Linked DNA regions of Homo sapiens. The main gene of each other region encodes a partner of the protein of the gene in region 2 in a complex. Each region holds a gene or a part of one and is shown on either strand. Other genes may lie near its edges.

The links.
Region 1: DHX9 (region 2) and IGF2BP1 share a complex: the UniProt entries of both Homo sapiens proteins name them as parts of the coding region determinant (CRD)-mediated complex.
Region 3: DHX9 (region 2) and HNRNPU share a complex: the UniProt entries of both Homo sapiens proteins name them as parts of the coding region determinant (CRD)-mediated complex.
Region 4: DHX9 (region 2) and YBX1 share a complex: the UniProt entries of both Homo sapiens proteins name them as parts of the coding region determinant (CRD)-mediated complex.

Annotation. Positions count from the first base shown.
Region 1 is NC_000017.11:48,993,326-49,000,384, reverse strand, and holds the start of IGF2BP1 (insulin-like growth factor 2 mRNA-binding protein 1), read right to left. Parts: upstream 3,001-7,059; 5' UTR 2,640-3,000; coding exon 2,465-2,639; intron 1,277-2,464; coding exon 1,216-1,276; intron 1,117-1,215; exon of another isoform or gene 1-1,116. UniProt on the Homo sapiens protein: RNA-binding factor that recruits target transcripts to cytoplasmic protein-RNA complexes (mRNPs). This transcript 'caging' into mRNPs allows mRNA transport and transient storage.
Region 2 is NC_000001.11:182,876,877-182,884,564, reverse strand, and holds part of DHX9 (ATP-dependent RNA helicase A), read right to left. Parts: coding exon 7,662-7,688; intron 6,545-7,661; coding exon 6,392-6,544; intron 5,316-6,391; coding exon 5,155-5,315; intron 4,069-5,154; coding exon 3,957-4,068; intron 3,302-3,956; coding exon 3,140-3,301; intron 3,046-3,139; coding exon 2,918-3,045; intron 1,427-2,917; coding exon 1,197-1,426; intron 1,046-1,196; coding exon 930-1,045; intron 1-929. UniProt on the Homo sapiens protein: Multifunctional ATP-dependent nucleic acid helicase that unwinds DNA and RNA in a 3' to 5' direction and that plays important roles in many processes, such as DNA replication, transcriptional activation, post-transcriptional RNA regulation, mRNA translation and RNA-mediated gene silencing.
Region 3 is NC_000001.11:244,861,152-244,869,192, forward strand, and holds the start of HNRNPU (heterogeneous nuclear ribonucleoprotein U), read right to left. Parts: upstream 3,331-8,041; 5' UTR 3,157-3,330; coding exon 2,466-3,156; intron 1,580-2,465; coding exon 1,468-1,579; intron 1,384-1,467; coding exon 1,310-1,383; intron 1-1,309. UniProt on the Homo sapiens protein: DNA- and RNA-binding protein involved in several cellular processes such as nuclear chromatin organization, telomere-length regulation, transcription, mRNA alternative splicing and stability, Xist-mediated transcriptional silencing and mitotic cell progression.
Region 4 is NC_000001.11:42,685,130-42,692,817, reverse strand, and holds part of YBX1 (Y-box-binding protein 1), read right to left. Parts: intron 1-7,688. UniProt on the Homo sapiens protein: DNA- and RNA-binding protein involved in various processes, such as translational repression, RNA stabilization, mRNA splicing, DNA repair and transcription regulation.

The DNA.
Region 1 (7,059 bases), on a different chromosome or scaffold from region 2:
AAGTTACTTAAATATCAAGCTAAGCAACTGAACAGATTTTTATCTCACATTAAACTTTCTAGGCCCTCTTAATGGTCCCCCAGAAAAAGCAGTCATCATCTCCCATCTACCCGGAAAAGGCCAGAGACTATCCTGAAATGTACCAAGTTTTCAGCTGAAATGGGGGGTGAGGAAGATCAAAGATTTACTGGGGGCTGCTTTCCAGCTTGGGACATGAGAGCAAACTCTACACTGTCAACATGTTTAAAGTCTGATTTGAGAAAGTAGAAAGACTCTGCCCTTATACTTCCCAGCCAGAGTTCAAGGAAAGGTTTCAGAGTTCAATGCAAGATTTGAAATCCACCATGAATTCTCGGTAAGTATGATGGAGGTACCCCATTTTGCTGAAGAGAGAGGATAGAGGGTATTGGAACACACACGAACACACACACACACACACACACACACACACACACACACACCATTCATCCACGGAGTTCTAGACCCTCCAAAGAGCCCCAGCTCACAGCCTCAACACAAAGCTCTCACCCCAGATGGTCCCCTGGTAACAATGGGCTGAAGGAGTGGGGGTAGGGGGGCTCGAAAAGGATAGTACAGCCAAGGCATATTCTTTGGAAAATCCAGCTGGGGAGAGGGATGATGTGAGATATGAGGGATTGGGGGTGGGGGGTCCATGGAAAATAAAAAGTCTTTGCCTGTTGTAGAAATATAAATAAAGTACAAGCATAAGGGGATTCTTTGGGGGCCGGGAAACTCATTCCACATCGCTTCGGGAGAAGGGCAATCCACTTAAGAATTATGGTGTGGAAAGAGTGGGAAAAACAGAAAATGAGGCCTGCTACGAAGTTGCAGAAATCGCCATGAGTCTGAACTCTTCAAAGATTTTAAGGTTCCCCCACAAAAAACGGCCCCACGAGTTGAACAAACAAACTCCACAAGGTTTCTCCCCTATTGATTTTCTTTCCCCTTTAATTCTGCAAGTAACATCTTTTAGCCTACCCCAGCCCCAACTTATTTATTTTTTTTTTACAAGCTGTAAACCACCCATTACAAGATCTTGGCCAATCTTCCCTCCCTGCCCCCAACATCCGGAGTTGGGGGTGGGAAAGACCAGTAATGGGTTTCTTCCACTGGAGACGCTATGGACCCCTGAACACAGCTTCACAGCACACCCCCGCGGCCCCCCCACCCCCCCCGAAAAGAGCTCTTTCCTACCTTTGTTTTTTGGGCACCGAATGTTCAATCTCTAAGCGTTTTCCTTGTAATTCTACTTTCCCTAAAGATTAAAAAAAAAAAATTACCATGAGAGCTTGAACAGGGGTTGGGGGTGGGAAGAGGAAGGGGAAAAGACACTAGGATAATTCAGGAGTTACTGGGATTCGAGATCTTCCTAGGAATCCAGGCAGTGGCTTCCGCATCCAGATGGGAAAAAGGTTGCTCTAGGAATGGTGGAGTCTGTAAATTCGTTATTATTCATTTTTTAATTTTTGCTTTATTAAATCACTGAGGCTTGTTGAGTGGATCGCTCTGGAATCCCGATTTGGGAAAGGTGCGAGGCCATTTGTGTGGGTGCGCTGCCTACACAGCTCCCAGATGTGGGAAGGAGCCAGGAAAGAAAGGGCTCCCCGTTCCTCAGAAAGTGGGGCGCGGGGCGGGAGGCAGTGTGCAGAATGAAACTTTATTTTTCTCTGTTGGCCAGGAAGACGGGCTTTGGGCCACGGAGCGGTCACCTGTCGGGGCTGGTTTGGGAAGGGGTGGACCTGGGGGAGCGGAGCGGGGCCTGGCGGGGAGGGTCCCTCACTGCCACCGCGCGCGCCTCTCGGCCCAGCCTCGGCGTCTCGGGAAGCAGCATGGCGACCCGGCGCCGCCGCCGCCGCGCCACCCCGCTCACGCCCCACTTTCAAATCAAAATGGCTCAAGCCCCAGGCCCTGGGCGGGAGGCAAGACCCCCTTCCTTGCAAGTCCTGCTGGAGGGCTGCATTCCCCACGCGAAGCGGACAGATCGCAGGCGGTCCGGGTACCCCTTCCACGCCTGGAAAGGCCTAAGACTGAGGAACGGGAGCCGGGGTTTTCCAGCTGGGGGGGCGTCCACCGGCGGATAGGGAGGGGCTGGGCGTGGAAATAACGCCCAGCCAGGGGTCATCCCCGTGTCCCTAAATTCAACCCCCCACTACTGCCAGTGGGGGCTCCCGCCCCGTCGGTGGGGAGGAAGGATGGGGGAAGCCAGAGCTCCTTATCTCAGGCTGGGAGAAAGGGATGAGGAAATCCCGAATGTTTCTGCGCGGGGGTGGGAGGCGCAGAGCGAGGGAGGGGGCATCGAAGGGGGTAGGTCGAGGGTGGGTACGGAGGCCAAACCCCGCAGGCCCGGGAAGAGAGGAGTTGGCGGGAGAGGAACCGGAAGGTGCGGGTCTCCGTTGTTCGGGGCTCTCGTTGTGGCTTTTCCGGGAGGTGGCTGTGTTCTTACCGGAGAAAGTTTCGATGGCCTTCATCGCCCAGTGCTCGTCCGGGCAGTCCACGAAGGCGTAGCCGGATTTGACCAAGAACTGGCCGCTGTAGGAGATCTTGTGCTCCGCAAACACTTTCTCCAAGTCCGCGGGGGTCACGCTCTCGTTGAGGTTGCCGATGTAAAGCTTGTTCATGGTGGCGGTCTCGGGGCAGGACGCGGTCCCGGGCAAGGCCGAACGAGCGGGCGCGGGCGGCGAGCCTCCTAGGCCAAGAGGCGGAGAGGCCGGCGGCAGGAGCCGCAAACTTTCTTTGCACCCCACCCCAGAAGTTGTCCCGAGCCCAGGGCGGGGAAGGCGGCCTGAGGGCGCGCAGAGGTCGCGGGAGAGTTCGGGGAGAGCCCAGGAGAAGTGCCCGCGGCGCGCAGGGAGACGGACGACACGGCGCAGCTTCTTCCCTTCGGTCCGAAACCCCTCCGAGAGGGCTGGTGTGTCACGTTTCTCCGCGGCCGCCCTGGCGCCGCCTCTAAATAAAATCGACTTGAAAAAAAATGGAGCGGAAAAAAAAAAAAAAAAAAAAAGGAGAAGCCACGTGGTGACAGCCCCCACCCACCCTGCAGGGAAAGACCCCCGACGCCACAGGGCCCCTCGGCCCTCCGGCCAAACCCGATAATCTCCCGCCTGAGGGTGGGGAACTCAACTCACCCCCGGGGTAAACTGGGGCGGTGCGGCAGCGTCCCTGAAGCTCTACAGGCCCCTTCCCCCTTTGCAAGAACCTGGCCCCTAGGGAAGCGCCCCGCCCCCACCCATCCCCCTACCCCAGCCCAAACTGGGGGAGGATGGTCCAGCCCAGATCTCACATGTCTTAAAGGGTAAAATGTACGGTTATTTTTCATTCGTTTTGGGGGGCGGGGTTGCTCACCCCTCCCCGGTTAACTGCTAGCGACTGACAGGCGGGGGACGGCCGAGACAGACAAAGAGAAGCCGAAGACTCTGGGGTCTTCAGGAGAGGGTCGCACGAGCTGGTGATTTAAAAAGAAAGGAACCTTTTCCCTAGATGTTTAAATGGGGGGGGTCTCCGCCTTCCCCACGCCAGCCCCACGAAACTCCCCCGCCTCCGGGGATGCAGGACCGGGGGACCCTGCGAGCGCGGGACTGGAAAGCTGGGAACGGGGTATCCCAGTGGAGAACGAGGAAGCCGCAGGAAATAATGTTTTGAGATCCCCACGGGAGAAAGGGTGGTTCGCACCCGGGGTCCGGCTGTTAAATGATAACGTTTCGGGGTCCTGAGGGGAACACGCGGAACTGGCCGGAGATGACTCCAGGAGACAGGAACGGTGGGAGACAAGGAAGAGGAGTGATAGCTAGGGCTAACCGGAGCGAACTGAAGGGGGAGGTCTTAGGGAGGGAGTGACCGGGTGGAGATTTGAATGGTCCCCTTTTCCCTCCCAGAGTCGGGGACAGACAGGTGGAGTTTCCAGAGCCTGCACCACCCGGGACACTGCTGGCAGCTCTCTAGGCCCTAGGTTCGGGTCTCGGAACTTTGTTTGGGGTGCAGGATTCCGATCCTGGCGGGAAGGCGGGAGAGGGACGGAGGGCGGGGGGCTAAGCGGGAAGCCCCGCCCACGTCCCCAGGTCAGACCCGCGGGGGGAGGGGGTAATTTCCGCTCCGCGCACGGGGAAGCGAGGGGCGGGAGCTTAGGGGAGGGGGCGGCGGCCACTCCCCTCCTCCTCCCGCCGTTCCTGGGGAGGGGGAAGCGGATCCGCCTGGGTCCCTTCCCTCGGCTTTGACCAACTCATTCCGGATCCTCCGGCTCCCGGAGCCCGAGGGAAGGACCCGACTGGGCAAGGGGCGACACGTGGGCGGTCGCACCCCGTCTGGGCGGTGGGGGAGGGGGCTGCTCGCCGCGCGTTTCGGAGTCCCGGATACGCGGCGGAGAGCGGGACGCGCGGTCCACGGGCAAGCCCCGGCTCCACGGCGGAGCGGCGAGCGAGGCCAACGAGTTTCTAGCGGCGGAGGCTGGGATGGCGCCAGGGGTGGCCGAGAGCGCGGCCCGGAGACCCTGGAACCCCCTCGCCCAGGGAACGGGGAAAAAGGAGGGGTCGACCCCCAGAAATTCTGGAATCCCCTTGAACAGGGCGAAAACTGGGGTGTTACTCCGGACTCTGTGGGAGGGAGGATAATTCTAGCGGGGGCACGCGTGCTGGGAGGGCAGGTGAGGAAGGGGGTCACTCCCCTTCCCCAGTCCCCGACCCCATTGTCTCAGTCGCCTGCGGCCCGGGCCGACTCCGCAACACGTGTTGACTACACCGATATGAATGCCTTGAATTTTTTTTATTGTTATTATTTTTCGTTTGCAGAGTCTGAGCTGACTCCGACTTTGGCTCACCGCTCTGCGGCCGGACGATTGTATGCCATTCAAAAAGTCGGGAGTTGAAAGACAGCACGCAGCACCTTTGTCCCCCTCCCCGTTTTCCCGGCGCGCTGAAAAGAAATGGGGCTGGGACTTAGGGGCGGGGGAGGGCTTCCAACTCGGTTTCTCTATATCCTCCACCACCTTAGAGCCCACCCTCCCCAATGAGCGTTTTGTTCTACCCAGCCACGTGTTTGTCGGATTTTTGTTTTTGTGATTTTTTTTTCCCATGGAACAACAAGAATTAAAGTACTAGGAGCTATTTGTTGTTGAGTAGAAAGAGAATATTTTCTGTCCAAGAAGGTGGGAGACATCTGTGTCTCACCCCCACACACACACCTCCGACCCTCCCCCCTTATCTGACTCTTAATACTTAGCTGTTGGTCACAAGCATTATTTTTAAACAAACCAATGAGTAGGAAACAGGCATGCCACATAGTAGGCACTCAATAAACATTTTTTTAAATGAAAAACAAGCTAATACAAACAGCACAGCAAAGAGAATTGATGAAAATTAGAGTCCAGGGGGGAAAAAATTATCTTGGCCAGAACGTGTGGCTCTGTTGCCCGGGAACTTTTCTTGGTGATGTGTGTAGACTTTTGAAAGGGCTAAAAGATGGTCTCAAAAAGGCTGTTGTATTTCTTGGCCTTTTCCTAAAGAGGAGCCCCAATCTCCTTAAATCTTTTCTGTTATATTGGGGAACAAGGAGGAGGGCAACTAGGCAGATCATCCCAGTTCCCAGAAACTTTAAGTGCTGTTTCTTTCATTTAATTTGAATCTTTAGGTGCTAATAAAAGCACTTCTCAGATTGTCTCCCTGGGGGACATATCCACTACTCTGCCTCTGTATGCCTAAAACAAAAGCAAGTTACACCCCATAAAAATCTCCATCCAGACCTCTAAACTCCTATAAAATGCAGTCCACTTTTTACTATCCTAGAGTCAATGGGAAACAACATTTTTAAAAATAATCAGTGAATTCAGTTCACTTTCAGGTTGATTTTTTTCCATGTAAAAATATACTAACTAAATGTTAGCTGAAATCAGTTTTAATGTATTTAAGATAACGTTAGAAGAGAATATATAAATTTCACTTGAACAATCTGCTATTTTTAAATCCTTTTAAATATTTAATTAAAAATTACCAATAATTGCTAAATTGAAACTGATTAGTTCTTTTTAAAAAATCAGCTGTTTTACTGAATTCTAATCCTCTCCACCCCCCAAAAAAAGGCTTATGTGTGTATAGTCAGAAGCTGCAAAGGCTGCAAGAATACAAGAGAGGAGACAACAGGGGTGAGATACAGATCTTTTTAGCCCCCAAATCAGTTTTGCCTTAGTGACCTGGCTATTTTAGGCTGGGGTTGGGGGAACTAAATCACATTGATTGGTGTTTCATCTCTCCCTTTTGAATGAGCCCAGCACTCACATTAAGGGTTATTTCTTATCTAGACTGACATTCCTAGGTTAGGGATAAAAATGGGCAGACTTGAGGTACCATAACTTTTCATCTTTCTTTTCTTTGTTTTTGTTAACATTAAAGATTACTATCAAATATTGTATTTATTTTCAATTTTTTTTCTACATTGCTTCTTTGGGACAGATAAATCTTTAGTGCAGAGTTACACTTGTGTAAGAGTTAAAAATATAGCTACAGGATTAAATGGTTTTTTCTTTAATAATTATCCTTTATAATACATATCGTATATAATATATATTGTATATTCTACATAGTAATATTAATACTGTTATACCTCTTCCTCTTCTTGTTCTCCTCCTCTTCCTCCTCTTCTTTATTTTTTCCTGGAGAACAGTTTGGTCTAGTTATGGAATTTAATTATCTGAATTCAGAAACACTGACATTTGACTCCATTTTAAAGATAGGATAATAATCCATTTTCCTCCAATGTGAATATACAAATACATGCAGAGAGGAAAAAAAAAGTTTGAGAGAATAAACCAACTTTTTTAAAGATGAAAATAAAAGAATATTTTTCTTGGAGAAATAAGCCAAGTTAAAAAAAGGAAAGACAAAAAGGAAAGAAAAAAGTTTAAAAAAATGAAAAAAGAAAAAATAGAAAAATTAAAAATCAATAATTTCACTTGTCATAGAAAATTAATTTTACTTGTAAATGTTTATTTTTCAGCATTTGTCCATTTATAATGGTTTAAAATTTATCATTTTTATATCTTAATTTTTCACT
Region 2 (7,688 bases):
AAAGACCATTATCTCTCAACTTCACACATGGCACATTATAGAATAAATTTAACTTCTTAAGCATTAATATTAAAAAAAAAAACTACTTATAATGGCCCCAAACTTAGGCAAACACAGATATGAAGAGTAGTTATAATCAGCACTAGCTTCTTAAAATTCACTGCTAGCTATGAGCAGGAGTCTTAAGCCAAAAAGTCTATCAAGCCAAATAAAATATAATAAAAATATATGCAATATATAATAAACAAAAAACAAAGTCCAGCAATATGGATCATTCAGACTTTCTTTTTTTTTGAGACAGAGTCTTGCTCTGTTGCCCTCGCTGGAGTGCAGTGGCGTGATAGCTCATTGCAACCTCCAACTCCCAGGTTCAAGTGATTCTCCTGCCTCAGCCTCCAGAATAGCTGGGACTACAGGTGTGCGCTACCACACGGGGCTAATTTTTTTGGATTTTTCGTAGAGACAGGTTTCACCATGTTGTCCAGGCTGATCTTGAACTTCCTGAGCCCAAGTGATGTGCCGCACCCAGCCAGATCATCCAGACTTTAAAATAATGAATTTAAGAGACCCAGAATACTGGCATTTTCTAGGTTTTCAAGAATATGATGGCTGAGCCTACTGGCTGTCCATTAAGCTCTATTCCATTTTTGCCCAGTGCTTACCACTAGTTTTGAATCAATATACAGAGTATGTGAAAGGGTACTCAAGCTTCACTTAGATTCTGATTCCATAGTGGTGGTGTGCCTAGTGGTAGACATGGCTCAAATTCCTAATGCATTTGCTTCTACTGGTATCAATTTAAGATTAAGTATATAGTATATAATTAAGTTAGATATAATTAGTATATAATTAAGTTAGATTAGCAGCTGAATTCCATCATATTGTAATTCTAAGAATTCAGTTTGGAGTTCACATCTGAAAATCCATACCAGTCATCTACAAGCACAATCTGCCCATCAGATTGGACTTTCTTGGAGGCAAAGAGAAGCAACTGCAGGGGGGTGACTAAAGTCATGCCTTTAGCAGAGATGGCTCGAGTTCGAATCTGCAAATGGAGAAAGAGACAATACAAAATGGTTGACATTCCAACTTCCAAATACCGCTATATACTGTGCTTTGAAAATCAAAATTCATGTTCCTAATGATTGTAAAGACAATTTCAACTTTCAATGTAAACTTTTCTAGTCTTTTCTTACCTTTTCACCAAATACAAAGAAGGGAGATGGGTACTTCATGTCTTGGCTACTAAAAGGACAATTAACAGATGATTTGTGGATAAGTGCATTACGCCCTTCAGTGGTGAGAATCTTCCTCTTTTCCTTATGATAGCATACATTGGGGTACACACCAAAGGCCAGGAGGGAGATAACAACATCCAAATTATTATCTGGTCCAGTGTTAGTAAACACTTGTGTCAACAAACAATCTGTTAAGAGGAGCACAGTGAAAACAAAAATCAGATAACTGGCTGATCTTCACATTACATGCAAACTATTTAAGATAATTCAGAGAACTGACTCTTCCTCACTCTTTTCACATAACCTGTCTGTAAAACTTTCTCTTCTCAGAATCCTTACACCCAGATTAAGTTCAAGGAGTAATGTTACTGAGTTTCCACAATAAGAAAACGAAAACGTCTCTATTCTCTTATAGACTCAACCATAAATAAGCTTGGGGTGATTACTTTTTTTTTTTTTTTTTGAGACGAGTCTCGCTCTGTCGCCCAGGCTGGAGTGCAGTGGCGCCATCTCTGCTCACTGCAAGCTCTGCCTCCCGGGTTCATGCCATTCTCCTGCCTCAGCCTCCCAAGTAGCTGGGACTACAGGCACCCGCCACCACGCCCGGCTAATTTTTTGTAGTTTTAGTAGAGACGGGTTTCACCGTGTTAGCCAGGATGGTCTCGATCTCCTGACCTCGTGATCCACCTGACTCGGCCTCCCAAAGCGCTGGGATTACAGGTGTGAGCCACTGCGCCCGGCCGGGGTGATTACTTTTTAAAGTCCCCCAATCAACCATCTACTCTGAGAATAAGAGCTTGACTGATAGGACCACAAAGTATTTATCTGCTACTCTTAAATAGCTGTTAGTTGTAGAGAAGATGGAGATAATCTAAGAGGACACCTACTGGAATGAAGGCTGACGTTTTTACCCAGTCTACACTTTGAGTACTTAGCTACTGACTGGAAAGCATGACAGTCAACCGCTGAAAGCACAGACATATTTTGTTCTAGACAAACGAGTTCTAGTCTTATAGCCTCCTAATTGGATGAATTAAAGACAATTTATACCTTGGTGCCTGTTTCATTACCTGTAAAATTCATCTCAAGATTCTAGCACATGAAGTTTTCCCTTTCTTATAATTTTGAGGAAAAACTAAAATTTCGGCTGGCTTATGACAGAAGAGAACCACTCACTACTTTGTTTAGTTATTCCAATTACAGCCTTTAAAAATTTACCATCTTGCCCAACTACCTTCTGTCTCTCAACAGTCTTATTTCTGGTTATGCATTCCAGTTCTCAATGTTTTAGGAAGTAATTCTATATTTTAACCTAGTTGGAAAAGAAAAGTACTACAGCTCATCAAGAAACATGGGTTGGTTTTTTTCTATGTTAGATGTCATAAAGTCCTTTAATCATCTGTACACCGAAAGTATAAATTAAAGTCATTTAAAATTTAATGTGGTAGAATTTACTTCAAGTCTAAATGCTAATAAATTACTTTGCAAACCACTATAAGGTTATCAGCAAAGTACTCATTCTGGGAACTAGACCAGTGTTCACGAGAACTAAGAAATAGTCGGGAATATATAAAAATCATAGGGTCTAAAATTTGAAACTAAAATACACTTTGCTGTCAATTTGCATGTACTATATAAATGTCACTTTAAAGATATCTTAAGAATGGAAGAAGTCTTACCTTCTGGAAACCCAGAATTAATCAAAATCTCTTTGAGCTGAACTTTGGCTTCCCAAGTCATTCTTAGTGTAGCCATATTAAGTCTTTTGTGCTCACAAAAACGTATCTCTGCTTCTTCTCCACCCATTCTAAAATAAATTGGCATGAGAAATCATTCTCTAAGACCAGAGAACTAAATACAAATGAGAAACTACAGACAGCTCACCCAAATCTTACTCATACCTAGCATCATCCCAGGCTTGGAATACTGATAAAAGGGCTACGTGATCAGAAAATCTGTTTCCAGCAAAATTTCGATGGATATAGCCCAGCCGCTTTCCTTCATTGATGAAAGGCTCTGGAAAGCAGGTAGCAGCAGCAATGGTACAGATAGCATCTCCCACGCTGAAATACACAAAGACAGTTAAATCCAGACTAGATCACAATGTTGTTGCCAGCAGCTCAGGTAGGACTGTCGACTGTGGGTTGCAGTCTTTATGGCTATGATTCTACTTTTATTTGCAATGAAACTGGCTTAACAAAGAACTTTATAGCTGCTCTCTTCAGAATCAGAAAGAAAAAAATGCTCTGATGCTCTAATGGCCACATATTTATCATAAATTATGACCAAGTATATTTTTCCTTTTATATTCTCTCTTCCCCATCATACCAAATCTCTTAATCTTCAACATTTTCTGATAAAATAAACCTCTTTTCCTGACACCGCTCTTTCAAGACCAACTATTAATAACAAGGGACCCTCCCACCCTGGCCTCCCAAAGTGCTAGGATTCAAGGTGTGAGCCACATTGCCTGGCCTGCTTGCTTTTAACTTTTGAGAAATCAGTGCCCTTTTCCCCATATTGGGCCCAGATATCCACCTACTGGAACTGTTCATTTTTTTAGTGTTACACTGCTCTCAATATCTAGGTATGTTACTTCCCTGAAGAACATTTAGGATTTTTTTTTTGTCTATCTGAGCCAATACTGCTTTTACAGGGAGGAGAAGATTCTGAAATTATTCTGCCACTTAACGAAGAGAAATAAAACAAAGCACTTACTAGAAAATACACCCCATTATCATCATTTTGCCAAAACGAGGCTCAATGGGGAGTTTAGCCAGGATTCGTCCCAAAGGAGTCAACTCATCATTGGCATCTAATGCATCAAGCTCTGTGGGGAGATAGTTCTTTGTGAGCAGAAACAAATGAACACTAATTTTAGGCAGACAAAACATTACTCTAAATTAAGGTTAAGACAGTTTAGAGTTCCTCTTTTGTCAAGCCAATCGCTAATACCATGTCTACGGCCAACAATTCTCTGTACTCAAAAATAGAACAAAATCAAAATCTGGAGCACCCAACATAAAGGTACTACAACTAAATCCTGTAGGTTATAAAAACAAATACAATTCATATGAAGTCTATAAATACAGTATTAACTATAATAGCAGCGTAAGTTTCTACATGCCATAAGAAGTCTGATACCCAGCTGTTAATGTTTTAAAAAAAATAAAATCTAGAGAAAATTCTGAAGTTACATAGTAGATAAATGCTAGATTCAAAATTCAAATTCAGATCTAGCTCCAATGCCCTTAATTTTCACTGTACCTCTAACAAGTTTAGCAAGAAAAAATAAATGTTCCAGGCTGGACACAGTGGCTCCTGCCTGTAATCCCAGCACTTTGGGAGGCTGAGGTGAGTGGATCACTTGAGGTCGGGAGTTTCAGAAGAGCCTGGCCAACATGGTGAAACCCTGTCTTAGTAAAATATAAAAATTAGCCGGGTGTGGTGGTGTATGCCTGTAGTCTCAGCTACTCGGGAGGCTGAGGCAGAAGAATGGCTTGAACCTGGGAGGTGGGGGTTGCAGTGAGCTGAGATCACGCCACTGCACTCCAGCCTGGGCAATGGAGCGAGATTCCGTCTCAAAAAAACAAAAAAAGTTGTAAGAGATTCATATGAAATACTGTGGGTATCATGAGTAAGTTATGTTCTGATCTTTAGTACATAGTTAAGAGATGCCTTTTTAAGTTTTCTTTTCTTTTTTAAAGACTCACATTGTCCCTTTCTTCCTTCTCATTGCTCATTAGAACAGTGACTATACTAACTATCTAAGGTAAGACTGGAGGCCTTACTATTATTATCACAGCCCTGTTGACTACATCTTCATCATCTTGATTCATTTGTAAGTGTTATCTGCCAGAACAAGACAGATGGTATGATTAATATCTGCGTCAAGTAGGTTTGTATTTGTAAGTACCTCTAAGAGTGTGTTCTGCTTCAATCACAGCATCCAAAGGGGGAGGTTCAATTGCTTTGGCCAGAAATTGGCCAATTCCTCCTAGACGCAGAAGTTTTATGCTAAGAGCAATTTCATGCAATGGTGTTCGGAACATCTCTGGTGTCATGTGGGTTTCAAGTCTAAGAGAAAATAAGCATAAAATAACCATCCTCCTTGTGTATACACAGATGTTAATAAACTTTTTGCAGCAAGGTAATCAGGGATACAGAGCTGCCTTTTCCTCATCCTTTTATTTTACAATTACCATCGGACCTTTTATCGTTCACTATACACACTGTTGACAAAATTTAATCTGGTTGCATAGTGGTTTCTGACTTATCCTCACAGCTTGATAGCCTTTTAGGCTGAGAAGAAAAATGAAAAAATTATCCAAAATCGCGAATGTTATTAGCTCCACCCATGGTCTCTTCAGGCCTTGCCTGTTGACAAACATGGGTTAAAAACGACAACAAGACTTTTTGTAGGATGATAACTCATACTAACATTTCTCTACAACCTCCCACCTTCCTAGTTCATGTAATTTTAGTGCCACTAGAAAGGCTCTTATAGATGTATCTTTAAAATCCAAAACTTTTTGACTTCTGACATGACACTTAAAGGAAATGCTCATTAGAGCGTTTTGGATTTCATATTTTCAGATTAGGGATGCCCGACTGGTAAATACAATGCAAATATTACCAAGAAAAAAAATCCAAAACCACTTCTGGTCCCAAGCATTTCAGTTTTAAAAGAGATATCTGACCTGTATAAATTAACAACAGCAAACACTTATTGGGAGATCATGATGTGCCATACACTGTTCAAAGTATTTTACATTATTAAATCATTTAATACTTATACCAACCCTATGGGTTAGGCATTATTTATATTCTTTTTACAACTGAGGAAACAAGAGAGGTTAAGTAACTTAATATTTTATAGAATGAGGGAAATGCAGGCCTAAGGAGTAACCACTTAGTGTTATACAATGTATTAGGCACAAATAATATTAAAATCTAGGTCTCTATATTTCTAAATCTGGCTTATTCTCTAAATGATTTGTGATGAAGATTCTTACGAAACATTTACACCTGATTCCAACATGGCTGGCAAGACTTAGATCAGCTTATATTGGCAGGTTTACATAACTGCACACATCTGTCCCTACAGAGAACAGAACAAAAATCCCTTACTAAAGGTCAAGAATGGGTCTTACCTCTCAAAACGAGCTCGGCTGCACAGGTGAAAGCAGAATCCAGGCCGTACTCGGCCAGCTCGCCCTTTCCGTTGCTCAAGGTTTGTTTTTGATGCCCATACGGTAGCATAGTTGGTCATATTGTTGTGAGCAGTGAAGAGTTTCACTTTCTGCCTACATAGGAAAAAGTGGTTAATTCTAAGACTCATGTGTATTATCAATAACTATTATATATCCACTAAGTAGTGAATGCTTTCCACTATGTAGTTAAAGCCATACCTACTTGTGATGTCTATTCATGAATGGCACAAGTAAGAATCAGCAATCTGACTGCAAACTCCTAGTTGTCAACCTACTAAAAGGCAATGTAACATCCACTTGCCACTTATCAGCTGAACTGCCTTGGCCAAACTTTGCATGCCATTATCTACCTTATAGTTTTTTTGGTAAACATTAAATAAATTAACAAATGCAAAGCATTTAAATGGAATATGGCACATACACAAAAGAAAGTAATTATTTAAGTCATCTCTATTCCAAAGTTTAGTGTAACTTTTAGGATATCTGTATCTAGTGATGCCTGTGTGGTCCATTTGAACCCCCAAGTAACCTCAGATTCCTTCAATGTTACATACAGAGACAGCTGCCACTAAATGACTGGGATTGGCACAGAATGCTATTCATCATTTCCTAAAATGGATGTTGGCAGCAAATTGTTTTCATTGTCAGGACAGACTAAGGAATTATAAAGAGAAGTCATGGGGTACAAGTTGGCCAGATATAACCAAGTTTCAACTTTTTTGTCCTTTCAATTTATCAATTACCATGTAATTCCTGTATCTACACAGAATGTCTCCTGGTATATTTTTCCAGGCTCATCTCATACCAAAATGAAGACCCTTAATCCTTAAAGGAGTGTCCTTCAAGGTAGGATATTTGTCATGTGCTAAACACTGGTCATCTTTATTCATCAAACAGCATGCTATAGTATGGCAGTGATCAATGGAAACACCCAATGGGAAATAAGTGAGACACCAGCAGCCAAGAGCAATGAGAAGTAATCATCAGTTACAGTTTCAAGCTTTGTCACTTTCTACCGTAACTGATTTGCAGTAATCAACAATAATTACTCTTAATTATCAATTACCTATAATGCTATATAGATGCACAATAATTTTGGAGATTTAAGAACACAGGAGTTTAAAAATAAGGTGTTTTTGATTCTGTTAACTGGTAAGAAGTTTCCAGTTAGTAACACTGGAGCAGACAAATAGGTTTCCCAGTAACTTACTTGCAGGAGTCAATGACATAAACAACA
Region 3 (8,041 bases), about 62 Mb from region 2:
ACTTCCTCAGACTTCTCACTTGAACAGCTAAAGTCAAGCTGGAACTCATTTTCTTTTTACTGATCAGAGAAAAATAAATCTACAGTTTGGAATTTTTCTTAAATTAGAGTTATTCTAATCAACAGAATTTAATTCAACAGATTGTTTGAATTCAACATTGTACTTATATTGACATATTCCTGATTTGCTAAAAAATCTAACAATTACATTACCTGTGTGAGTCACCACTTCACTACCTTGCCAATTCCTAGCAACTTATTTATACAACCCAGAATTTCACTAAAACTTTCACATCAACTAACTCCTTTTTCACCTGCAGTTTTTTCTTTTAAAAAGGCTCAGATGACTATCTCAACCTTCTGTAAAGGATATTCCAGTAAGAAAGAGTTTTACATTGACACTCTTACAAATCTGAATAAAGCCAATTTGTACAAGAAAACATGAGAAGCTAAGCTCCAATGCCTTCCATCTAACACAGCAGGCTGACACCATAGCTGATACTTTTGAAACAGTTATTTTTATCCTTTGGTCTATTTATCACACCCAGAGTTGTACATTCTCATCACTAAACCAACTACGTTTTTTTGTAACAAAAAAAAAAAAAAAAAAAACAAGTCTGACAGTCAAAGCCCACTTAGAGGTTTGCAATACTTTCTCACTCAATTGCAACCCAACTGGGTAAAGTAGCAGTATTTACAGTGCTGCACTGCCATTGATACCATTCGCTGCTGAAGAAAGCTAGTGGCCCAGTGATAGCCCACTGCTGCTGCCTCAGGTCTTTGGAAGAAATCAACTTATGTTTAAAGCAGCAGCTACTGAACTGGAATTGAGAACAAAAGAGCAGTTATTGAAAAAGTAATATTACAATCTTTTAAAATAGGGAATATACTTGTGTGCTAATGGGAGAAGTCATTAGTAAATATTTAACTAGCCCAAATAGCTCACTTAATATAATTCCACAAAAAAATGAATTACTTTATTGTAGAAGCCTGTAAGGCTAAATTATAGGTAGTGTTACAAGTTTCCGTTAGCTAGTCAAAAACTGGCATTAATTTTACATTTCCTAAGAATGAGAACTTTCAAGTCATAAAAATACGAAACTCCTAGAGCCTGTAAAATAATCCACTTAATACAACTGATGACGTGCTAAATATTAAACTACTAGGTTCTGAATGTAAACCATTATCTTCCTGCTTTTAAAAAAACTAACCCAAGTTTTGCTGCACTTAAGCATTAAGACTTCTAAAAAAAAAAAAAAAAAAACCACCATCACCGCATTTCATAATTGGGGAGAAACAGCTTCACTTACAAGTATCAAGACAAACCACTGTGTCATCGAAGTGTTCATCTTCTTCTTCAACAGGTGGCTGAGGAGATTTGGCTCTGAAAGACAGAATTGTCTCCTGATACAGCTTTCCGATCAACGAACGAATAAGGGATGAGTAAAACTAGGTGAGCATCCTATACCTGCTATACTTGTTCTCTTCAATGTACTCAAAATATCCACGGCCATGATCTTCTCGTGGTCTTTTAACACCCCTCTTTTTATCTCCGCCTTTCTGTTCTGTTTTGCCGTCCCCTAAAACACACACGAGCCCCATAAAGGCCAAGCCTCTAAACAACAAAAAAACGCTTTTCCGTTCCGAGAACCAAAGCAGCTCGACTTTATCCTGCTTTTTAACTGAGGTTTTAACCGAGGACTCAAATGTGAATTCAAAGAACAATCAACTACGAATTCGATTGGCGCTAGTGACGCAGTCTAAAGACATTACTAATTTTGCCAGTCTCCTCGATGATTCGAGAAAGCCAAAGAAAAACTGCGCGGCCCAGGCCCGAAGCCCACGTGTATCCCGAAGAGAGCGCAGAGAGGGGGAGGGGCCGAGCCCGGCGCGGCGGCGCTCCCCTCCCCCGCGGGCCCGCGCTCCCCGCGGCCGCATTGTACTGATCTTCCGCCCCCCGCCCCGCCCCGCCCGGCTCCTCCCGCCGGAAGTGACGTCACGCCGAGCCCCTGCGCTCCTTGCACAATACAGCGGCGAGGAGCCGCCAAAGCGCGCCCGCCCCGGGACCTGGGGCCTCTCCCCTCCCCCCGAGACATGTGCCCGCACCGCGCGCACGCAGCGCGACGGCGCCACCGCGGGCCGACCGGGCTCCCTCCCGCCGCCCGCCCGCGGCTCCTCCCCCTACAGCGGCAGCTGCAGCTCCCCCCGGCTCTCGAGCCACATAATGGAGGCGCTGCCACCGCCGACACACACACACACACACACACACACGCGCGCGCGCACACACACGCCCCGAGCCCGAGGCCTCTCGGCTAATCTGGGATTCCCCGCGCCCCCTCCCCCACCCTCACCGCGGCGCCCTCCCGCCCGGGGCTCCCTCCCCCTGCGGGGCTCCGGCAGGCCTGGGGCACGGTCCCCACCCCGCGCGGGCCTCCCGCCGCGCGCAACGTACAACGCAGCACTCACCCGCCGCCGGAGCCCCGGGGCGACCGCCGCCTCCGCCGCCTTCCGCCTTCTTCTTACCTCCCGCCTGCTGCTGGCCCTGCCTCGCCCCGGGCGGCGCCACCGTCACCGCGAACAGCGAGGTGGGGCCGCTGCTCTTCCCCGCGGCCTCCTTGGCGGCCCCGCGCTGCTGTTGGGGCTGTTGCTGCTGCGTCGCCGGCGGTTGAGGCTGCTGCTCCCCGTGCCCGTTCTCGTCGCCCGCGCCTTCCTCTTCGTCCCCGAGCTCATCTTCCCCTTCCTGGAAACCCTGATCGTCGCCGTTCTCGTCTTCCGAGGCGGCCTCCTCCTCCTCCATCGGGCCCGAGTCGGCCGCCCCCGCGGCCCCGTTCTCCTCTCCTAGCTCCATCTGGTCGCCGTCCAGAGCGGAGATTCCTTCCTCCTCCTCTTCCTCTTCCTCCTCCTCTTCATCGCCGCCGGCCGCGGCCTCCTGCTCGAGGCCTGCTCCCGAGCGCCCAGCGGAATCCCCGCCCAGGTCTAGGCTGCCGTTCCCGGGCTCCATGGCGGGGCGGCCCCCGGCCTCCTCGTCGTCCAGCGCAGCCTGGAGTCGCTCCATGAGCTCGGCCTTGAGACCCTTGTCAGAAAGGCGTCGCTTCTTGAGCTCCTCTTTCAGCTCCGACACCTTCAGCTTTTTTACATTAACAGGCGAGGAACTCATGGTGAGGGCCCCGATTCACCGCTAGGCGCTGCCTCAAACTCGGCTCCGCTCACTCGGCCACTGGTGGCGGCTGCTGCGGCTGCTCCTCGGCCCGGGCGGCGGCTGCGGCTGCGGCTGGAGATGGGTTCGTGCTGCAGAGCGGATCCGCCTGGTGTCGAACGGCGCCAATTCCTTTCACCGAGTTCGCGAGGGAGACGCGGAGACTCGCCTGGCGCGAGCGAGCACGCAACGTCCTCTCGCAGGAGCGGCGCCGCGCACGTAATATAGGCGCCCCGCCCCCTGCGCTGACGGGAGCACTGCGCAGGAGGAAAGCCGGAGCGCGCCCGCGCTCGGCCCCGCCCATTACCGTACTTACCTCCCCGCCCCCACGCCGAACCCGGGCCGAGAGCGCGGTGGAGGCCGCGCAGTGCGCTTCCAATTGGGACTGAGCAAATGGAGGAAAAGGAAACCGCCTTTCAGTTCAACCGACTCACTGCATGATATATTGGCCTTTCTGGGTCTTTGGTGGCTATACTCGTTTGGCTTTTCTCCTTCCCAGCTTGGAGGCTGCTTTATCCAAATGCTTTCTTCAGTCCTCAACTTGGCGTTTCAACCCGAATCCGCCTTTTCTTCCATCTTAGATCTGCCTTCTTATGTGTTTCTCCAGCTCTTCGTTTAAAACTCCTTCAAATCGTATTTCAGTTTTGACTGGTATAGCATACATTGGCAACTGTTACACGCAGCGGCTCTTTTCCTCATAATACCGTATTTGGTTTAATTTGTGTAAGTCCTGCCTTGCGAATTGGATTTTAAGTTCGAGAAGGGCAAGGGCAGAACCGTTCTTTTGTCTGTTCCACACCCCGGGTGCGGGGCCTGGGAAGTAGAGGCTTTGCTTACTACTCCATACTGCAAACCTTAGTGTACCTGCCTTTGCAGGGCAGCTATTCTCATGCTCTTAATAACCCTGAATAAACCTCAGAATTGCATTTCCAAGTTTTCTGTAGCTACCACAAAGACGGACCTCCAGTAACACTTGTTCTGTCCACTTTAGGACCTGGTCATCAGCTACGAAGTCCCAGTAGCTAACCGTGAGGGTGAGACCCAACTAGGTCTTTGATTATAGGCCCACTTGATTCTCTTCCTATTCCTGTAGAAATACTCTTGACCAAATTATTCTGAAACTTAAAGTTTACGAAAAATCAAGGGCTGTGATTTTGTAAAAAGAAAAATGGACTATCGCTCTTGAAATCCGTTATTTTATATGTTAGAAGTTTACTTTTTCTCTTTAAAGAAAAGATGTGATGTCTCGAAGTTTTAGATAGGGAAGTCAGAATTTAGATTCGTGATAGAAGTTAACATTTTAAACCCTAGATAATCTGCAGTGTCCAGCCAGTGTTCCATCTGACTAAGGAGATGGTTTATACCCACTGTTTGGTGCTCTAGGTGGCACAATAATATTGCCCCATTATTAATTTGAAATTTGGAAGTAAACACATTGAAATTTCTCCCATAGGCTAATATGATTTAACTAATTGATACATTTTATTTTTGAAGTTTATTTTCGGTAGCTTTTATGAAGCATTCTACCATACCTTGCAGTCATGTATACGTGAAATATTAACACTTGTGAAATGATTTGACTTGAAATTAATGGACTATGTACAGTACTACTGATAATCCCCAGTTCAAGTTAAGTGGTGAGGATAGCCCCCAAAATAGAAACTTCCAAACAGTGCCAGAAACTCATTTTAGCCTTTGGTTATAATTTTGAAGGTTATGAATAAGCCACAAACTGGAATTTGAAATTTTGTCTTCGTTCAGAAATGGGAAGAGAGCTACAGGGGGTTTACATGTTCACAAACTAGATAACTAATCCCTTAATGAATCAGAGTTAAATACAATTATGATGGTTCCTTAAATTTATGTGTCCTAGATATTATTTACACCTTTAAATATTAGTTATATGAAAACAAATTTCATTTACTGGAAAACACTAAACTATGAAAACAAAGATTGTATATCTACATATAGTAGATCTGTAACAGTCACTCTTGGAACATTAAGTCAGTTGCAAAAATAAACATGAAATACAACTTTTGATGCTCACAAGAAAGTTCTATGGCTTTATCTCCAAAAGTTTTGGAGAACTTTAGAGCTGGATGGGGCCTGGAGATCGATCTGCAGTCCTGTTCATTTTACTGCCCAGGAAGCTGGGACCCTCACCCCCCACACCAATGGGCTTTCTATTACATTGTGCTGTCTTAGACAACATTTGAAAGAAAAACAATTTCTGCTCAAAGAACCATCATCATACTATCCTTTTCACAAACAGAGGAAATATGCCATTCCATAGTCTTATGTTACCACTTCAAAGTACAAATGGTGACATCTTATTGATCATTTTTGCTTCTTATATTTTTAATGCTATCATGATAGTCCTGCTCTACAGAGACCTGTTAAAGTGCAGGTCACTTCCTGTAAATCTCTGAAGGACCTCTAAGACAATTTAAATTCCCCCTGTGTCAAATCCTAGAGGCTACCAAGAATACCGCGTGCCGGAGGAGACAAGTTAATTCTCAATAACAAAAAATGATTCAAGAATGACCTATGAATAATTGATCTGTGAGAGGTAACTACAAAGTTTTGGTGCTCTGCATGTCTAGCTTACATTTTTGAGGTTTAAGCAAAGGAAATGCTATACTTTGTCACACAATTTATTCAGCAAATATTTTTTCAATACTTTCTCAAAAACATTTTATAGTCATAACGATGAGGCAGTTCCAGAGATCTACAGTTAACAAAGTATCCTGCACTTAAAAATTTGCTGGCCAGGCCCAGCGGCTCATGTCTGTAATCCCAGCACTTCGAGAGGCCGAGATGGGAAGATGGCTTGAGGCCAGGAGTTCGAAACCAGCCTGAGGAACACAGTGAGACTCCATCTCCACAAAAAATTAAAATTAGGTGGCTGTGGTGGTACGCCTGTAGTCCGAGCTACTCAAGGGGCTGAGGTAGCAGGATCACTTGACCCCCGGCAGTCAAGGCTGCAGTGAGCCGTGATTGTACCACTGCACTCTAACCTGGACCACAGAGGGAGACCCTGTCTCAAAAAAAAAAAAAAAGAAAAAAGAAAGAAAAAGAAAAAAACCCGTTAAGATCTTACGTTAAATATTCTCATTCCCCCCCGCCCCCCAAAAAAAACAAAACAAAACAAAAAACAAGATCGGGAGTGGTGGCTCACACCTGTAATCCCAGCACTTTGGGAGGCTGAGGTGGGCAGATCACCTGAGGTCAGGAGTTCGAGACCAGCCTGGCCAACATGTTGAAACCCCATCTCTACTAAAAACACAAAAAATAGCCAGGCGTGGTGGTGGCCGCCTGTAATCCCAGCTACTCAGGAGCCTGAGGCAGGAGAATCACTTGAACCTGGGAGGCGGAGGTTGCAGTGAGCTGAGACTGAGCCACTGAACTCCAGCCTGGGGGACAAAGCAAAACTTCGTCTCAAAAAAAAAAAAAAAAAAAAAAGGCCGGGCGCGGTGGCTCACGCCTATAATCCCAGCACTGTGGGAGGCCGAGGCGGGCGGATCATGAGGTCAGGAGATCAAGACCATCTTGGTTAACACAGTGAAACCCCATCTCTACTAAAAATACAAAAAATTAGCTGGGCGTGGCAGCGTGCGCCTGTAATACCAGCTACTCGGGAGGCTGAGGCAGGAGAATGGCGTGAACCCTGGAGGCGGAGCTTGCAGTGAGCCGAGATCGCACCACTGCACTCCAGCCCGGGCAACAGAGCGAGACTCCGTCTAAAAAAAAAAAAAAAAAGAAAGAAAGAAAGAAAAAGAAAAAGAGCCGGGAGCAGTGTGGGCTCAAGCCTGTAATCCCAGCACCTTGGGAGGCCAAGGCGGGCGGATCACCTGAGGTCGGGAGTTTGAGACCAGCCTGACCAACATGGTCTCTACTAAAAATACAAGATTAGCCGGGTTCGGTGGCAGGCGCCTGTAATCCCAGCTACTAGAGGGGCTCAGGCAGGAGAATCGCTTGAGCCTTGGAGGCAGAGGTTGCGGTGAGCCGAGATTGCGCCATTGCACTCCAGCCTGGGCAACAAGAGCAAAACTCCACCTCAAAAAAAAAAAAAAAGGGAAAATGAAAAAGAAAAAAAAGGACAAAGGTACACAAGGAAACTGTTGGAGGTAATGGATATGTTCATTTTCCTGAATGTGGTGATGGTAGCATGCGTGTGTATGTCTGTCCAAACTCACCAAATATGTATAGATTTATTAGTTATATGCAGGGTTTTCTTTTTTTTTGAGACAAAGTTTCACTTTGTTGCCCAGGCTGGAGTGCAGTGGAACCGTCTCAGCTCACTACAACCCCCGCCTCCCGGGTTCAAGCAATTCTTGTGCCTCAGCCTCCCTCGTAGCTGGGATCACAGGCGTTCACCACCACCCTCGGCTGATTTTTTTTTTTTTTTTTTTTTTGTATTTTTGTAGAGACAGGGTTTCACCATGTTGCCCAGGCTGGTCGTGAACTACTGAGCTCAGGCAATCCACCCATCTCGGCCTCCCAGAGTGCTAGGATTACAGGCGTGAGCCACCGTGCCCGGCCTATATGCAGTTATCGTATACCAATTATACCTCCATAAAGCTGGGGAGGTTGGGGGAGGAAGACAAAAGAATTCAGGCCTGCGGGGAATGATGGGAGTGGGTAGGAGAGGAGAGAGGGGAGAGAGGAAAACACAGATCACCAGCAGCCTCGTGGGTGGTTTTGTAAAGGACTTTGGCTTTTGCTTTCTGCTATGGACTGAACGTTTGTGTCCCCACAAAAGTCCTGTGTTGAAACCTAATCCCCCATGATATTAGGAGCTGAGGCCTTTGGAGGCAACGAGGTCATGAGCGTGGAGCCCTCATCA
Region 4 (7,688 bases), about 140 Mb from region 2:
AGGGGGTAGAGAATAATCTCACTTTTTAGCCTGGATATTGGGATTAAGGTGATAACACGAGGAGCAAGAATCACCACTGGAGAAGGAAACGGATTTCCAGGCCTGCAGTGGCCTGCCTCACCCTCTTTACTCCGTCAGGTCAGAGTGAGAAAAAGCTCAGTAGTAGCTCTAGCGTTTAATGACAAAGGGAACAAAGGTTACAATGAACTGGACAAACTGGCTTACTGACTGTTAGCTTCTTGCTGAACTGGGGGCAACATATGCATCAAAGGATCCACATAAAATTAACTTTAAATCTGACCTGTAAATTATAGCTTGGATTATTATAAGAACATTTTTAATTGATGGGAACAGGATAATTAAAAAAACAGAACAGGTAAACTGTAAAAGCGACTTAAGGCAAGTGACTGAAAACTGACCTTTCAAGCTAGATGATTAGGATTGCCTAGGGAAATGATGGCTGTACCTAATGTCCATCTGTCCATAACTCCATAGGCACCACAAAAACAGATTACAGCCATCATTTATTAGTTCTGCTCTCCAATATGACTGAATTTCAAACTCTAAGGCTCTAAGGGGAAATACAATAAAAAACTGGTAGAGTAAGAAAGGCAAATACAGGCAAAGTCTAGAATAGTGATTTTCAACAGGGGCAATACTTCCCCTGGCAGGGTATTTAAAGTTTTTCCAGTCCGGGTGCAGTGGCTCACGCCTGCAATCCCAGCACTTTGGGAGGCCAAGAGTTCAAGATCAGCCTGGCCAACATCGTGAAACCTCGTCTCTACTAAAATTACAAAAAATTAGCCAGGCGTGGCTGTGTGTGCCTATAGTCCCAGCTACTCTGGGGGGTGAGGCAGGAGAATTGCTTGAAGCTAGGAGGCGGAGGTTACAGTGAGCTGCTGCACTCCAGCCTGGGCAACAGAGTGAGATTCCATCTCAAAAAAAATAAAAAAATAAAATTTTTTTCCAAAGATAGGGAGCACTATCTGCATTAATGGAAGTGGTGGGTGTTAGTTGCTAGAAGACTATGTAAAGATTTGGTATAGAAAGTAAATTTGTTTATTGTTATCTGAGTCATGTATGTATTTCTGTACTGTTTTAATACGCATTAAATTCACTAAAAATGCAGCTTCTGTGGAGAATTTTTCATTACTGATAATGCTACTCATGGTATCTGGGTAATACATCATTTCTTTATCAATCCATTTTGTGGTGGCTCTGACTGTTTGTTATGCCTTCTAATGTAGTTACAACAGGTATTCACATATCAATATCATCATACCCGGCAATAAAAATAATTAAAAGTAGTTACGTGGCGAGACCCTATATCTATAAAAAATAAAAAATTAGCCGGGCCTCCATTCAAGTCCCGGAAATGAGGGTGCAGTGAGCTATAATCATGCCACTGTACTCCATCCTGCGCAACAGAGCAAGACCCTGTCTCTGCACAGAGAAAGCACAAGGCTGCCATTACACACAGGGTAATGTCACTCCTGCAAAGACAGGGAGGTGTTTTGTGGGTACATAGATAGATATGTGAAACTAACACAGTTCACTGACCAGTGTCATGACAGTAAAAACAGTATTGCAAAAGGAATACTTAGCCAGGGCCTCAAGCTCAAGGTATTTACTGAAAACGTCCTCAATTGCAATAAAAACATTATACCATTAAAAAGAGTGATTTGTTGAACCAGTGATTTAAATGTATTGATCTGCTTTGAATTTGCAACCAGCCAGAATCTCTAGTTTAAACTGGCAGTTATAACAAAAGAGACCCTCAAATATTAGACAGCTGCAGTGCAGCTTTCTGGGTGCAGGTGTCACTCTCTGCCAGCCATCACTATTCTTTTCTGTTCAGTTTTTCTCTCAGGTGTTTGCTGGGAAATTAACACTGGAACTGACCCTTTTCCGGCAGTGAATGTAAGCTCTAGCTCCCCCATCTACTAGAAAGAAATGTCTTCAAGATGTAGAAATAAGGAATATTCTGAAAATAAAAATTATACAGTAGTAAAGATAATTCAGAAAGAAAAAGCTACCTGTTAGAATTTCCAGTCTAAATGGCACAGGGTAGTTAGGGAGAAAAGGGGTTGGAGAAAGAGAAACTATGACTAAAGATGAGAGGTATGAACAAGCTGTCAAGTTCCTATGGGCTAAAGCTGGGGCAATCAGGCCCTGAACTCCAAAGCTGGATAAAGTCTTTCTTTCTATTCTTCTTGGCCACCTGCACAGTCTGACACATACATATGTACAATTAGATTTGCAGGTCACAGGAGTGCCCTGCATTGTTTTAACTAGAAATAAAAAGTATTAGTCTAAATGTGGTTCTGGTGCCCTGTATATATGTAACAATATAGGACCCCCAAAATAGATTTTGCTTCTGGTGAATCTTATTCATTGGGTTAGTGTATGACTGTCTATAATATTTTCCATTTGTATTATTACATTGGGAAAAACATTTTTATCACTTTCTATTGTTAAGAAAATGGAAAACTTAAATATGGTGTTAAAAATGGAAATATATGTGATATTTGCATTATTAAACCCCTTTGCAGATCTTAAAAAAAAAAAAAGAAAAGAAAAAGAAATAACAGTACTCAATTTTTTTTTGAGATGGAGTCTCACTTTGTTGCCTAGGCTGGAGTGCAGTAGCGATCTTGGCTCACTGCAACCTCTGCCTTCGGGGTTCAAGTTCTTGCACTTCAGCCATGAGTAGCTGGGATTACAGGTATGCACCACCACGCCCTGCTAGATTTTTAGTCTTGACTCAACTATTAACAGCTGTGTAACCTAGGAAAGCTGCCTCATTGGCTTTTTTACCTGCAAAATGAGAAAAACTACACTAAACACTTAATAACTTACATTACTAAGGTAGGTACTCAAATCTTTTTAGTATTTATTGGGCATTTACTATTCACTAATACTAGCCAGATTTCTAAATTAAAATCTAATTGCTACCACTCCTATACTATGGCCTATCCAGATTGGTAAGGGTCTTAAAAATAGACAAAATGCAACTCAAAATGGGAAAACAAAGGCAAAAAAATTTAACTTCCCTGGAAAACTTTTTAGTAAGTCAAAAGACAATTACAGCTTGCCAGATAATTCTCCATGCCACAGGAACTAGGAATTCTAGCATTTGCTTTTCATGGCCCAATCCATCCAAACTCCCGGACTCTACTCCAGCATGTTCACCATGTTTGACCCCCCTCCCACTCCTTTTAAAACATAACTATCTTTATCCTAGCTGTATATCTACATAAAAAATAAGCTAAATTTTAGAAAACTTTTTTGCCAATCCACAGTATTGCCTTAAATAAGACTTATTATACATAAATTTATCCGTAACTAAATGCTCTTATACTACTACTTTGTTGCAGATCACCAGACCACACTAGTCTAACACCTTAATTCACGTAACTGCATACACTAATTTACAATCCTGTGGTTATAAAAACTCCAGGATTTACCATCTATATGCTCCATAACCTAAAGCAACCAGATACCAATTTCCAAGCCTTGTAGATGACTGTAAGATAATAATGTCCACTTATCTTTGTATTTCTTCTCTATTAAACACCCTTCACACCCAACAGACTCACTTCTGTTTCCCACATATTGTCTATGATTCTGCCTTCGGACAAACTGTATGTTTCCAAGGGCTAAGACTGGAGGGTAGCAAACTCAGCAACTGCAGCCCCAGGACTAGGGGGACAGGAAGGTAATACAGTGTATCCTTGAATAACTCAGTATCTATGAGGGTGGATAGAAGTTTGAGGTGCCAACCTGCTGCACAGTTGAAATCTGCCTGTAACTTTTGACTCTTCCAAAATTTAATGGCTTACTCGTGACTGGAAAGCCTTACTGGTAACATAAATCCTTAACACATTTTCTGTCTTATATGTATTATATACTGTATTCTTGCAATAAAGCTACAGAAAAGAAAATGCTAAGAAAGTTGTAAGAGAAAATACATGTACAGTACTGCACTTATCGATACGGTAAGTGTACATCTGTCTGAAAGGTAATTCCAGCTGTAGACCTCATCTATAGCACATATCGAGCAACTGAACTTTTTCTTACAATGCCATGACTTTTCTCAGCATCACTAGCGCCACTTTGCATGGGTCCCATGGTGCTATTGAAGACTTACAGTATTGCACTAAACCACAATACCTGTGTACTACAAGTTCTTTTTACTGACATGCAATTTACTGGAGAGATAAACTGTTCATGTGAAGATGATTAGCGTCACATGGCATTTTAAGGGGCTCACTGCAGTAGCAATAGGCAGTGGCTACATATTATAATAGTACAATATTACTACAGTGAATGTCGTGCAGTTATGATTTAATGCTGCCTGAATCTTTATGTTTGTTTACATTTCTCAACTGCAAATGGCTGTATTAACTTTCTAATGCATTTGTGTACATTTTATGGTAGTAAATAATAAAACAGACTAGTATCTACAACATACTCAACTTTTCCTTATTTTGGGGGATACTTCTTGGCTATGTGGTTCATCTGAAGTTTTCAGGTTGTTGCAAATCTCCAAACATTTTTCCAATATATTTATCAAAAAAAATCTGTGTGTAAGTGGACTTGTGTGGTTCAAACTCACATTGTTCACGAGTCAAACTGGATACTAGTTCTCTATCCTAGATTTCAAGAGTAAAGGATTGTACTTTGGGAGGACACAGGGAGTGGGACCTACTAGTATTCTCCAAGTCACGTATCAGTGACTTGGTGAACACGGATGACTTCTTGCCAGCTTAAGATCAATGGTTAATATAACCAGCATACAAATCTCTCCTAATGTCTCCTGCATACATGTCATTGATGTTTGTCTTTAGGGTTCCAGTTTGGAACCTTCGACATCTCTCCCTTAGCAGCACCTGCAGAAAAGTCTTTAAACCTTCCCTAGTGCCAAAACATTTTGTCAGTTATGTTACGGTCTACCCATGACTTATGTGGCTTAGCAATGGATCTACTGTGATCAAGTTAAGATCAGTGTGACTTTAACAGCCCAAGAGATTTTTGGTAATGACATCCTTCCAAAGGTTTACACTTCTATTAAGAACCACACATTTGGGAGGCTGAAGCTGGAAGATCACTTGAGCCCAGGAGTGCAAGACCCATATGGGCAACACAGAGAGACTCCACTTCAAACAACCAACAACCACACAGTAAGTACTTTACACCGCCACCTTTAAAAAAGAAAAAAAAATCACCCTTTAGAGGCCGGGCGCAGTGGCTCACACCTGTAATCCCAGCACTTTGGGAGGCCTAGGCGGGTGGATCACCTGAGGTCAGGAGCTTGAGACCAGCCTGGCCAACATGGAGAAACCCTGTTTCCACTAAAAATACAAAATTAGCCTGTGTGGTGGCGGGCGCCTGTAATCCCAGCTACTCGGGAGGCTGAGGCAGGAGAATCGCTTGAACCTGGGAGGCGGAGTTGCAGTGAGCCAAGATCGTGCCATTGCACTCCAGCCTGGGTGACAAGAGTGAAACTCCATCTCAAGAAAAATCACCCTTTAAAAAGGCAATATTCAGTCTTACCTTGCAGGCCATACAAAAAAAAAAGATTAAGGGAGATAAGGTGCAACATTCTCTCCTTTAATTCTTCACCTCCCAGTATCAGGAATTAAGCAAGTCCTTTTATTTGTATAGCTGACCTACATGCTAAACTAGAACTTTTAACAATCCCAAACTTCACAAAGTAGATAGTGAAAGGCAGAAAACTTTTCAAATCCAGGACCTAGCAAGTCAGCAGACAAGAGCCCCAGTGACATACTTGGATCATTTAAGAGTCTTTCAACGGCTAAAAATAATCACCCTAAGAAATTATCTGTAACTATGTGGACAACAACCAAATTGAAAATGGCTAGGGTCTATTTCAGAGACAGCATAAGAGCAGTTGGTGAACACTAACTCCAGAGTCAAAAAACAGTTCCAATCCTGCCACTTATCACCTATGCTTATGGGGACAAGTAACAACTCCTTTGTGCCTCAGAATGACAGTACCTACGCCTCAAAGGTTTTTAAAGATTAAGTAAATTGGCTCATTTTAAGCACTTACTATAGACCCTAGTATAAATACTTGTTAGCTGTATCTATTTTCACCAACATGTGTTGGAAGTCACCTATCAGTTATGTACATATGGAATCCCCACAAGGGAGCCCCCACCCCAAAGGGAGACTAAACCTGATAGGCGTGACTAAAGAGAGATAGCCAAACCTTTCCCTGGCTTGGTTTATTACATCTTCCTAGACCATGGGTAATAAACTCAAATGCATACACAGAGGCCAGGCGTGAAGGCTGTCGTAAAAAAAGTATACCCCACCTAAATGTGGTGACAATATGGCCAGGTGGTTTTTACTTATGTGGAAATACAGGCCCCCAAAGCCAGCTAAAGTTCAGATCTTAAAAATATAATAATCTGGATTACTTGGTGTTATCTCCTGAATTATAAATGTTAGTAATTAATCCCAATTCCTTTAAAAAATACTGTACTGTCTAATCAAAGCATCTGGGAGTAGTTTTAGCCAGAAGGTCACAAATTTGTGACCTCTGCTCCAAATTCTTTCACCTCAAAACATTAAGAATTATTAATTTAAACATTTTAAGTACTCTGGAAACAGAAAAATATTCCTATTCTGGTCACTATAAACTGTTGCCAATTCATGGTAATCTTTGGTGAATATGGATCAATACTCAACCACTAACAAAATTCAACAGTAATCTGGGGGGAGCTAATAAACCCCTCTAGTCACATTCTCCGATTATGTTTTGTAGACACAGTTCACAAAAGAATAACTCAATGAATTTCTTAGAATTTCTAGATTACACAGTCTAACAAAATAAAGCCAAAACTTCTGCTATTTTTAAAAGCTCTATGCTCATGTTACTTAGCACCTTCTTCACAATATAACCATCAGGGAGAAGCCCTTTCATGAATTAATTCTAACAAGGTTGTAACAATTCATCAGGTGGTAATTCAGGCTGGAATAAACACATTTACAATGAAATTATGTCTTTAAAGGCAGAAAATTTACATACAATATTGTAATTATAAAAATTCCTTACAATCCTAGCATATATAATCCAGCGCATCCAAAAACCCCAATTAAAAGTCGTCACAATAGTCATCCCGAACACTGCACCCTCTCCTTTATACAGAAAACAGCACGTTATGTGTCAGTCTGTCTCCCTCCCTCATAAGAGACAGGTGCCTCCAGCCAAGTCTATTTGTTCCACTACACGAACTACATATAGAACCAACTGCTAGCTTCCAAAGTGATTTCTTTTATCACATACATTTTCCTTAATTAAAGCAAATCTTCCCTGTATTTAATTGGAGTCAGATTTTACAGCATCTTATTAAAAAAGTCCCAGAATCATTAAAACCAGTTCAGAAGCATAAAGAACATTTTAACCAGTTAATTTGACAAAATAATTGAGGTTAGGATAGTCCAAACAAAGGACCATCAAAAGCCAATTCATAACTTGCCCTGGAGGATGACCAATTGAGTTGATTCCAATTCAGAATAGAGATATTCAATGAACAGTATCTCATGGACTAAATACTTAAAAAATGTAAAGATATTACTCTTATTCTGGACAAAACTGTTGATTTCAAAAAATGTCATAACCTATGCCTACTTAAAAAAAATGCAGCGAAACAAGGCAC